3 linked regions of the Homo sapiens genome follow. The protein of the gene in region 1 interacts with the protein of each later gene in a biochemical or structural test. Each region holds a gene or a part of one and is shown on either strand. Other genes may lie near its edges. The genes, in order: CARM1, GRIP1 and MEF2D.

The links.
Region 2: the proteins of CARM1 (region 1) and GRIP1 form a complex in vitro, tested with the Homo sapiens proteins (2 studies listed by BioGRID).
Region 3: the proteins of CARM1 (region 1) and MEF2D form a complex in vitro, tested with the Homo sapiens proteins (one study listed by BioGRID).

Annotation. Positions count from the first base shown.
Region 1 is NC_000019.10:10,916,527-10,920,348, forward strand, and holds part of CARM1 (histone-arginine methyltransferase CARM1), read left to right. Parts: intron 1-169; coding exon 170-251; intron 252-3,068; coding exon 3,069-3,154; intron 3,155-3,350; coding exon 3,351-3,440; intron 3,441-3,822. UniProt on the Homo sapiens protein: Methylates (mono- and asymmetric dimethylation) the guanidino nitrogens of arginyl residues in several proteins involved in DNA packaging, transcription regulation, pre-mRNA splicing, and mRNA stability.
Region 2 is NC_000012.12:66,350,459-66,354,280, reverse strand, and holds part of GRIP1 (glutamate receptor-interacting protein 1), read left to right. Parts: intron 1-717; coding exon 718-864; intron 865-3,822. UniProt on the Homo sapiens protein: May play a role as a localized scaffold for the assembly of a multiprotein signaling complex and as mediator of the trafficking of its binding partners at specific subcellular location in neurons.
Region 3 is NC_000001.11:156,466,176-156,469,775, forward strand, and holds part of MEF2D (myocyte-specific enhancer factor 2D), read right to left. Parts: intron 2,846-3,600; coding exon 2,605-2,845; intron 2,125-2,604; coding exon 1,818-2,124; intron 1,482-1,817; coding exon 1,470-1,481; 3' UTR 1-1,469. UniProt on the Homo sapiens protein: Transcriptional activator which binds specifically to the MEF2 element, 5'-YTA[AT](4)TAR-3', found in numerous muscle-specific, growth factor- and stress-induced genes.

The sequences.
Region 1 (3,822 bases):
CCCCACAGCCTGCCTTCTCAGGGACAGCCCCAGCTCCCCAGAGAGCCTGCACTCCTCTTTTTCTGAAAGACTTGGGCTAGATGAGGGCTGACTGGGAGAGAAGGCAGGGCTACCCCACCTGCCTCTTCTGCAGCCCTGACCTTGCTGTGGGGGTGGGGCCTGTCCACAGGTACCAGCCATCTTTCCATGGAGTGGACCTGTCGGCCCTCCGAGGTGCCGCGGTGGATGAGTATTTCCGGCAGCCTGTGGTGGTGAGTAGGGCCTCCAGGGTACTGCTGCAGTGATCACTTGCCATTGCTGTGCAGCTGTGCAGCCCTCAGGAAGCTACAGCCCCTCTCTGAGCCCTCTCCTCTGCCCTGCACAGCGCTCTCACAGAGATTTGGGCCAAAAGTGTCAATGCATGTAGACACTTAGCACACAGCACACATGCAATACATGTGGAACATTATTAGGTGAGGCTAAGGCAGAGGGGGCATTTAGGCTCAGGAGTTCAAGATCAGCCTGGGCAACACAGAGACGCCATCGCTATTTTTAAAATTAAAATAAATAAATAATAAAAATAAAAAAGAACCATTACTAGATGAATTTATCCTTGGTGAGCTGATGTGATTTATTGATTGATTTTACTTGAGATTTTTGATACATAGATCCATGATTTAAAAATCAAAAGGAAAAAAAAGCTAGGTGCAGTGGGTCACACCTGTAATCCCAGCACTTTGGGAGGCCAAGGCGGGCAGATCACGAGGTTAGGAGATTGAGACCAACACGGTGAAACCCCATCTCTACTAAAAATACAAAAAATTAGCCAGACGTGGTGGCGGGCGCCTGTAGTCCCAGCTACTCAGGAGGCTGAGGCAGGAGAATGGCGTGAACCCGGGAGGCAGAGCTTGCAGTGAGCCGAGATCGCACCACTGCACTCCAGCCTGGGCGACAGAGTGAGACTCCGTCTCAAAAAAAAAGAAAAAAAGGTTCCATTTTATTCTGTTTTCCCCCTGCTCTTGATGTTTTTCATTCGTTTTGGGAGACTCTTGGACTATCTTGGATACTATCTCTTTAAACACTACGTCTGCCCCATTCTTTCTCCTTCTGGGATTCCAATTACGTGTACAGTGAACCTTTTCACCATATCTCAGATGATTGTTATACTCTTTTCTGTCTTTTCCATCCATTTTTTTCTCTCATTTTCTTTTTCTTTTTTTTTTTTTTTTTGAGACGGAGTCTTGCTCTGTTGCCCAGGCTGGAGTGCTGTGGCATGATGTCAGCTCACTGCAACCTCCACTTTCCGGGCTCAAGCGATTCTCAGACTCCTGAGTAGCTGGGAGTACAGGCGCTTGCCACCACTCCCAGCTAGTTTTTTGTAATTTTAGTAGAGATGGGGTTTCGCCATGTTGGCCAGGCTGGTCTGAAACTCCTGACCTTAGGTGATCCGCCTGCCTCGGCCTCCCAAAGTGCTGGGATTACAGGCGTGAGCCACCATGCCCAGCGTGTTCAGTCTTTTGTGATATCACTGGGGAGTGAATGAGTGAAAAAAGCAGGAAATATTTTGGTGGTATTATGCAAATTTTGTATTATGATGAGGGTGCCTTGGAAGAGGCCACAGTTTGAGAAGGTGCTGCTTTATGGTACAGCCTTTGGTAATGTTAATGCAAGTCCAGTGGTTAGCCTCATTACCAATATGCTGCTGAACCACCCGTTAGCTTTTATTGTTTTTTGAAACAGGATCTCACTCTGTTCCCCAGGCTGGAGTACAGTGGCTCAATCACTTCATGGCTTACTTCAGCCTCGATCTCCCAGACGCAAGTGATCCTCCTGCCTCAGCTTCCCAAGTAGCTGGAACTATAGGAGTGTGCCACCATGCCCGGCTAATTTATTTTTTTGTAGATATGGGGCCTCACTGTGTTACTCAGGCTGGTCTTGAACTCCTGACCTCAGGTGATCCGTCCGCCTCGGCCTCCCAAAGTGCTGGGATTATAGGCATAAGCCACTGCACCTGGCGTTGAGCCTCTTATTAGCGGCTTTCTGCTTGGTGTCTTAGCCTCTGATGCCCTGCCTCGCTCAAAGCTCAGGAGTTGGCCAATTTCACAAGCGCACTGAGTGTGCACCGCCCACCTTGCCCTCCTGCACTTATTTCCCTTTGCTTTGACATCACAGCCCCTTGAATCCGAGCTGCCTTGGTAACCCTGAGCTCCCATTTTGCTTTCCCCACCCAAGGAAGCTGCTGAAAGGTCGAGGTGGCCGTTTTCTGCCCTCCCCATGGGGAAAAGGTAGAGGCCAGAAAGGGCTCCCTCCAGAAAGGGCATTTCCCTCCTTTCCAGGAGCTTGATCCCCAAAATCCTGGCCGCTCTGGTTGGTCACCAGTGCTTCCAACAACTGGTTTATTCTTTTCTTTGGATTTTATTCGGTTTACATAGTTCATGGCAGGTGTGTTAGTCGGATATAAACATTGCTGGGAGTGGACAGCAGCACTAGTGTTGTTGTTGTTTTTAAGAGACAGGGTCTCCCTGTGTTTCCCAGGCTTGATTCACACTCTCGGGCTTAAGCGATCCTCCTGCCTCAGCCTCCTGAGTAGCTGGAGTTACAGGCATACAATTCCACACCCAGCTAGCACCTAGTTCTTTAACTTGCTTTTTTGGTTAACTTGCTTAATGATTTAGCTTGGAGATCTTTCCTCATCTGTTCATAAAGAGCCTCTTCATTCTTTCTCACGTCCGCATGGTCTTTGATGGGAGAGCCATCACTGGTTTAATTAGATGGTTTCCAGTGTGTCGCTACCACGGACAATCTAATTATACATGTAAGTTTGTTGATGTGTTCATGTATCTGGAGGTTAAACTCCTGTAGTGCCAAATCTTTTATGTGGATAAACACTTGTCATTTGGAGAGCTGTCACCTGATTGCCCTCGGTGGCGTTGTGCCGGTCCCCTCCTCACGGCGTGTCTGGGAAGAGCAAGCTCGTTTTAGCTGCACAGCCTAGAAGCCGTGGGCAGACCTGGGGGAAGGGGCAGGGCTCTCCCCTCCCATGCTGGCCCTGGCGTCAGATGCCACGTCACACCTGTGGTCTCTCCCAGGACACATTTGACATCCGGATCCTGATGGCCAAGTCTGTCAAGTACACGGTGAACTTCTTAGAAGCCAAAGAAGGAGATTTGCACAGGTACTGGCACCCACACTCCATCCTCCCAGGCCTGGCTCAGGCCGAAGGTCAGGGCCACCCCTGGCTCCCGCCGGCATCCTGCCGTCCCAGGGCAGATGGTGGGCGGGGGCCCCAGGCCTCTGCACCTGGCACCCCCTCTTCTCTCTCGGCAGCGCCTGTCTGGCTTCCCCAGCAGCCACTGCCCTTTGCCTTCCAGGATAGAAATCCCATTCAAATTCCACATGCTGCATTCAGGGCTGGTCCACGGCCTGGCTTTCTGGTTTGACGTTGCTTTCATCGGCTCCATGTGAGTGCCGCAGAGCAGCCCATGCTGCCTCCTCCCCACTCCCAGGGCTTCCTGCAGCTGCAACCTGGCTGGGGGGGTGGAACATGGCTCCAGGTTCCACCATCCCTTCCAATGGGAGTGAGAGCCTGTCTCGGAGCAAGAGACTGTTGTGGGTGGGGTGTGTGTGTGTGTGTGTGTATGTGTGTGTGTGTCCTGTGTTCCCAGTGTCTGTCCCTCATGGGTCTGTGTCTGTCTCTTGGCACATGTCAGGGTGAGTAGGGATCTCGTGGTTGCGGGCCCCTCGTGTGTACATGTATGCCTGCTCATGTTTGTGTCTGGGACTGCCTGGGGGCCAGCCTGTCTCTGCTCCAGGGTCCCAGGGGTCCCTGGCAGAGGGGGCAGG
Region 2 (3,822 bases), on another chromosome or scaffold:
GAGGAGTGAGGCTTTAGCCAGCTGTGGTTGGCCTTAGATGCAGAGAGACCCGGGGTGGGGGGCAGGCCGCAGCACTCAGGGTAGATGCCTTCAGTTACCAAATCAAACCCTAGACAAATGCTGAGGGAGCGAGTTAAGCCGAGGTGCAGAGCAAGGTGTTGTCATAGAGACACATTCAGGTCTTTTACATAGTGTTCTGTGATGGTGCTCATTGGGGGTTCCAGAGCAAATAAAAGGATGAACTTCATGGTACTTGCCCAAAGAGAGGATACGCCGAGCACTGTGCTTAGCAGAGCACCAGGCAGGAGTGGGGAGGAAGGAAAGGCCTTTGGCTTATTCCCCAACATCTCAGCAGTTGTAAAGGGCTGCTGCGGGCAGCTCCTCTGACCAGAGGTTGCCCCAGGAAAATAGTAGAAGTCAACTTGCCTTGAGGAAGTTCTCTCCTATATCCCCCTGATGACGACTGAAAAGGAGGGAGGGAGGACCCAGACGTTCCAGTTCTCCTCCTTTTTCAGCTTTGGTTGGGAATTCATAAAGTCCAAAGATATTCTTGGAGTGGGAAAAAAAGGCTGCAGGATTGGTGCAGGGAGCTGACTGATGCTGATATTACAAATCATGATGTGACTAAATTCGTGTGAAAAGATTGTTCATCAAGAAGTTGCAGAAGGAAAAGTCTCCACCCCAGCTAAATATTCACATCCCATTTTCTCTCTTCAGGTGACCTTGTACAAGGACTCTGACATGGAGGACTTTGGGTTCAGTGTAGCAGATGGCTTACTGGAGAAAGGAGTGTATGTCAAAAATATTCGCCCAGCTGGGCCAGGAGATCTTGGTGGCTTAAAGCCCTATGACAGGCTCTTACAGGTAAGACCTCAGGTGGAATTTTAATTCCTTGCAAGTAATTTCTCACTGGGAGCTTCCTCCACATCCTCCTGCATATTTGGGGCCCTTTGCTCTTTTCCCTTTCAGCCTTTGTCATCAAGATTATGGAATCAGTAGAAGCAAACAGCTGAATAAAGAATTTTCAGCTCTAGTAAATTCTAACCCAGACCCCAAAGTTCTGTGGTTTCTTACCAGTTTTTTTCGGCACTGAGCTCAGAGCCATCTTTCCCAATCTCACAGATTTCACCCAACCACGGTCATCTCCCACCATCGCACAGTAGTCCCATAAATATGACGTAGTTATCCGACTCCAGGCACCACCAGTCTAGTCCTTCCTACCACTTGTCTTCTACATGACCTACAAGGCCCCAGGGATTTGGCCTCTCCTTACCTTGCCAGCATCTTGTCTTGCCTCTTCATTCATTCATTCATTCATTTTTGAGACAGAGTCTCGCTCTGTCACTGGAGTGGAGTGGCGTGATCTTGGTTCACTGCAACCGCCACCTTGCAGGTTCAAGAGATTCTCCTGCCTCGGCCTCCCAAGTAGCTGGGATTACAGGTGCCTTCCACCACACCCAGCCAGAATGCAATTTGCTAACTAATTGGAGGGTTGATGACGGACCTTTTGAAGTTGATGGAAAGTTAGTTAGAATCTTTTTTCCTTTTTTTTTTTTTTTTGAGACAGAGTCTCAGGCTGGAGTGCAGTGGCACGATCTTAACTCACTGCAACCTCTGCCTCCTGCATTCAAGTGATTCTCCTGCCTCAGCCTCCCGAGTAGCTGGGATTACAGGTGCACACCACCATGCGTGGCTAATTTTTGTATTTTTAGTAGAGACCGTGTTTCACCAGGTTGGCCAGGCTGGTCTCATACTCCTGACCTCAAGTGATCCACCCACCTCGGCCTCCCAAAGTGCTGGGATTATAGGTGTGAGCCACTGTGCGCAACCTCTTCGTATACTCTCTAGCTTCAGCTGGATTTGTTTCAGGAATGGTGTATGCTGCCACCTCCTGGCCTTTGCACCTGCTGTGCCCTGAGCTTGTGGCGCTTCTCTGCTAAACATGCACAGGCTCTTTCCCTGCTCCTTCCTCTACTTCAGGTCCCTGCTCACATGCTGCGACTTAAACCACTCCGTCTAAAAGGGCCTTTCCTGCCTCTCCATTCTTCACCCTTCTTTCTTGGTTCGCAGTACAACCACAGATGATGCTAGTTATTTGCTTATTCTGTGTTGCCCACTAGAATGTAACTCCATGAGGGCAGCGATTTTATTCTCCACTCTATTCTCAGTTCCAAGAACAATGCTGTCACATAAAAGTGCTCAGTACTGCACAGCAGAATAGAAGCGCATTGGCTCTGAGCCTTATATACTCTTTCCTTTCTCTGAATGCTCTTCTAATCCCTAGGCCTTACCTGCCTCATTCCGACTCAACTTTTTGGTCTCACATAGATCAGCGATTCTCAACCTTGATTGAAAAAATGGAATCACCTAGAGAATGTATCCCAATGTTCAATCAAATGCCAGACCAATTAAACCAGCGACTCTAGGAGACAGATACGGCATCGGTGTGTTTTTACACCTCCCCCAGTGATTCCAGTGAGCAGCCAAATTGAAAACCACTAGTTTAGAGGACTCCCCTTCAAAGCCTAACTTCACCAGACACCACCCAACCTCCTTTACCTCAAGTCTGGACTAGGGGCCCCTCCTATATCGAACAGCAGCTTTTGCTTTTGGTAGAATTTACATTATTAAAACTGCCTGTTCAGAGGTTGCAGTGAGCCGAGATCATGCCACTGTACTCCAGCCTGGGTGCAGAGTGAGTTTCCAAAAAAAAAAAAAAAAAAACCACCTTCCTGTTTCCCTGCATATACTCCCCAGCAGATTGTAAACTTTTTGAGAGCAGGGATAGTACCTTATTCTCTCATTTCCCATTATGTGGTATTTGATATCTCAGTATCTCTCACAATATCTGAAACCAAAAAGCTGAACCTTGCTTACTTTAAATATAGTAACATTGAGGTCAGGTATAGTTTTATTTAGGAAAGCAGATTTCTGATCTTATGTACAGTTTTTGGGAAGAGCATTTTGCAGGAAAATGGAGTGGGTTGAAGTCAGTCTTAGCAGTGTACTCACCTGGAAACAGTTTGTCACCAAACAGCTGACTTTCAAAGCAGGAGGCTGCCACTCATTGGTTGGCTTTCAGGGATGTGTTCGCTGAAGCAAGTTGTCACTGATCAATTTGATAGTTTTGGAATCAATTCTGGTGATGATTTTTACTATGGCAATAGAACAATTAGTCTTATCCTAGGAGTTTGGGGACACTTAGTTTTCCGCAGACATGCTAATATTTGCTGAATGAATAACTATGGACAAGTTACTTACCTTCTATGAGTGTCTTCCTAATCCATAAATAGAGCTAGCTCTACTCTCATCGCAGTTGAGGCTGTAAAAGTAGACTACATTCAGATTATAAAGGGCCTTGAATGTGATGGTAAAGCTCTTGAACTTTATGCTGGAGGCATATTAGTTTCTTAAGCAGGATAATGATATAATTGGTAACATAGAAAGGCAATACAATATTATTATGGGTTTATCGAAGGTGGGTTGGGGAGGAGAAGATCACAGGCAAGGAGTCCAGGTAGGGGTAGGTAAGATAAGACAGCTCTTTCAGAACTAATGAGTCTTTAATATTTTCAGCACATTGTGATAGAGCAGTCTGGGAAGCATTTGGTGGTTTGGATCTGTTGGTGAGGAGAGATATTAGAGCCAGAGTTAAAGATTTAGGATACTGAAGGGTGGGGTTTAGGACAAGTTGCCCTTGGTGGCCTTATAACAAAGAAGAGAACAGAACCAAGGATGGATTCTAACAGTAACAAAATGTATCTATGTATTTATTTATTTCAGACAGAGTTTCTCTCTTGTCATCCAGGCTGGAGTGCAGTG
Region 3 (3,600 bases), on another chromosome or scaffold:
AGGGGAGGGGAGCAAGAACAACAGCAGAAGAATCTCGTCTGTACAGTACGGGCCGTTTGAGTCATTATTATTACAATATACTTTGACAAAAATAGAATCTCATTTCATATCAATACAACAACAACAAAAAAAAACAGTTTCCTGGACTGTTACACCGCTAACGTTTTCCAAAGGTCGCTATTTACAATTACAGTAGCCAAGAGGGAAGGTGGGATGCAGCCTGGAGGTGGTGGGACAAGGAGGTAGCCAGAGACAATAGGGGCGCCAAGAGCAAGGAGGTGGGGTCAGGAGCAGAAGGAGCTAACAGGAGAAGCTAGGGAGAGGGGCCAAGGAGGAATGAGGGAGGTGGGACCTCTACGGACCCATCCGTAGGCCCTCCCACCCCACAGACCATCCCAGTGTTGACTCCCCCAGGTAGTGTGCGTGCAAGACCAAGGACGTCCCCTCACCACACTCGCCCCAATGAAAGAGCTCTGGCCTGGAGCACCCCAGGGAAGTCCAGGCCGACTCTCGCCCCAGCCACCTCACTGAAGACCCTCTCCCCATTCTCCCTGCACACTGTGGCCAGCTTTACAGGGCTGGCGTCAACTGAGGGGTGGGGAGCTATTGCACTGTATATCTTAGAGAAAAACTGGGGAAGGGAGGGGCTCAATTTGCCCCCTGCCTAGCCCTTCTGCCCTCCTCAGCCCTCTCCTCATGGCTCTCTTGTCTTTCCCTCCAAATGTGCTTCCAGAGAGGCCCCCACCTCAAACCCCTGTCTCCAGCCTCAGATTCCCAGGCTGCCTTCCCGGCCCAAAGCTCAGCCAGCACCCACACACCTTGGGGGTGCAGCACACACAAGAATCAGCGCAGGTGTGGCACGTGTGTGTGCAGGGGCATTTGGGGGCCAGGCTTAAGTATTCTGCTCCATGTGCCTATGGCTACATGAACACAAAAACAGAGACCCTTTTCAGAACCTCTGCCTCACTTTCCCCTTGAAACACAAACCCACCCATCAAGCCCACTTTGGGGTTTCAGTCTAGAGTGTGGGTTTCTGTTGTTTGGTAGTTTTTTGGTTATTTCCCTCTATCTGGGGGTGGGGTGGGAGGGCTCCACATGCAGGGCTCGGCACCTGTCCTTTCCCAAAGGCCTTATTGGGCCCCCCACCCCCTTCCTGCAGCATATGTGTACAACGTGCAAAGTGTCCCCCCTTCCCGCGAAAAAGAGAGCCCCCCAGCCAGTGAAAATGGTGGGGGGTACAGAAAGAGGGGATGAGAGCATCCCCCTCTCCAAAGCGAGAATCCAAATTAAAAAAAATATAATAATAATAATAATAATATAATAATTATACACAAATGTAACCGTCAACAGGACACGAAGCACAAGAAAGGAAGTGGGGGTCGAGCGGGAGGAGCCCGGGGCAGGGAAGGGCGGGCGGTGAGATTGTCAACTCTTCATCAGGGAGGCTGAGAGGAGGGGAGTGGGAATCGTCACTTTAATGTCTGTGAAGAGAGGAGATGGAGAAGGGGGTGTGAGGGGGTGGCCCAGGCTTTGGGTATGCACCCCCCACTCCCCTCTCCCCATAGGGCCAGGATTCTAGTGGCAGGGCCAGCTGTGAGGGGAAGAAGTCATCGAGCAGAAGGACTGATGCTGGAGGGAGGGAGAAGATGGGCCTTTGGCAGGGGTGAAGGGGTGTTGGTGCTGCCCTAGAAGGGCTGGCGGAAGGGGTAGCCGGCCACAAGGCCTCTTGGGTGGGAAATAAAACAGGTTAGGGGGCACGCGGGGCAGTCCCTGGGTGTAGCAGACACTGGCAGACAGGAGAGGTGATGCTACAGTACCCAGGTATCAAGCCGCATCCTCTTCACAGCTGAGCCCTCAGCCTCAGGCTCTGGGGCTGGGCGCAGCAGGCCCAGTGTGGGCCCGAAGTCCCCCCGTCCGTCATCCCGGTCTCCCGTCTCATAGGATCCCCCGGCTGGGCTGCTGAGACCATCGCCAGGCTCAGGGCGGGCAGCTGGGAACACAGCTGGAGGGGGAGGCGCAGGGCTGCGCTCACGGCTTGGGGACACCGGTTCTGACTTGATGCTGATGTGGGGGTGGGTGGTGACTGTGAGGGCAGCACCCACGTGGGGCAGGGGGCTGCCCGGGCTGGAGGCAGGCAATGGAAATGGGGTACAAGGGATAAAAACAGAGGGGGTGAGTGACAGAACAAGTGATAGGACACCAGACAGAAAGTGAGAGAGAACAAGAGGATGAGAATATGGGGGATGGGGTGTTGGGGAGAGGCAATTGGATGGAGAGTGATCAGAAGAGGGTCGAATGAAGGGAAGAGAAGGGAAATAAGAAATATTAGTTCTCTTTCCATCCCATGTCATCTTCTGCAACACAGGGCCCCCCACCTCCCACCCCCTACCCTGGGGCTGGCTCTCAGAAGGGGTTCAGGGTGAGCCTCTTGGGTCTGTACAAGAGAGCCCAGGGGTGCCACTGTTGCCTAACAGACTGTGCAGTGCACAGCCTCATAGGATGTCCACTAGAACCCTGCAGGGAACCCAGCTCCCAAGAGGTCCCTCCTCTTCCCGTTCAATTCTCCCTTCCCACACACTCACATGCAGTCTCCCCAGGACTCACATGAGGTTGCTGAGAGATACAGGGACCAGGTGGGACTGTTGCTGAGGTGGCTGTTGCGGCTGCTGAGGCTGCTGTGGCTGTGGCTGCTGTGGCTGCGGTGGCTGCTGCTGTGGAGGCTGTGGCTGCTGCGGCTGCTGGGGCTGCTGTGGCTGTTGCCAGGCAGTGACATTGCCTAGCGACAGCCCCCCAGGTGAACTAAAGGCTGGTAAGGAGGAGAGCTCTGCACTGGTCAACTGGTAATCTGCATGGAGGAAAAGTGAGGATGAACCTGGAGTTGGGGAGAGCACACAGGCTCCTATGAGGGAGCTGCCTCCAGGAGGACTGTGGGGATGAGGGGACAGGGAGTGTGTAATGACAGATGTAAGGAATTCAAGAAGACCACAAAAATTCAGTGAAGACGGTACTCAGAGTTAAAGAAACCTAAGTCATAATAACCATGAGGTGCTGTGTTTTAACAGGATGAAAAGATGTGGTTTTTGTTTTGTTTTGTTTTTTTGAGATGGAGTCTCACTCTATTGCCCAGGCTGGAGTGCAGTGGTGTGATCTTGGCTCACTACAACCTCTGCCTCCCACGTTCAAGCAAATCTCCTGCCTCGGCCTCCTAAATGGCTGGGATTACAGGCACATGCCACCACGCCCAGCTAATTTTTGTATTTTTAGTAGAGATGGGGTTTTGCTATGCTGGCAAGGCTGGTCTCAAACTCCTGACCTCAAGTGATTCGCCCACCTCGGCCTCCCAAAGTGCTGGGATTACAGGCATGAGCCACCGCATCCGACCAAGAGGTGGTTTTTAAAAATAGTGTTGAACTTAAAAAAAAAAAAAAAAACAGCTGGGCGAGTGGCTCATGTCTATAATCCCAGCACTTTGAGAGGTCAAGGCAGAAGGACCACTTGAGCCCAGAGTTTGAGACCAGACTGGGCAACATAAGGAGACTCCATCTCTACAAATAGCTTAAAAATTAGCTAGGGTGGTGGGGTGCACTGTAGTTCCAGTTA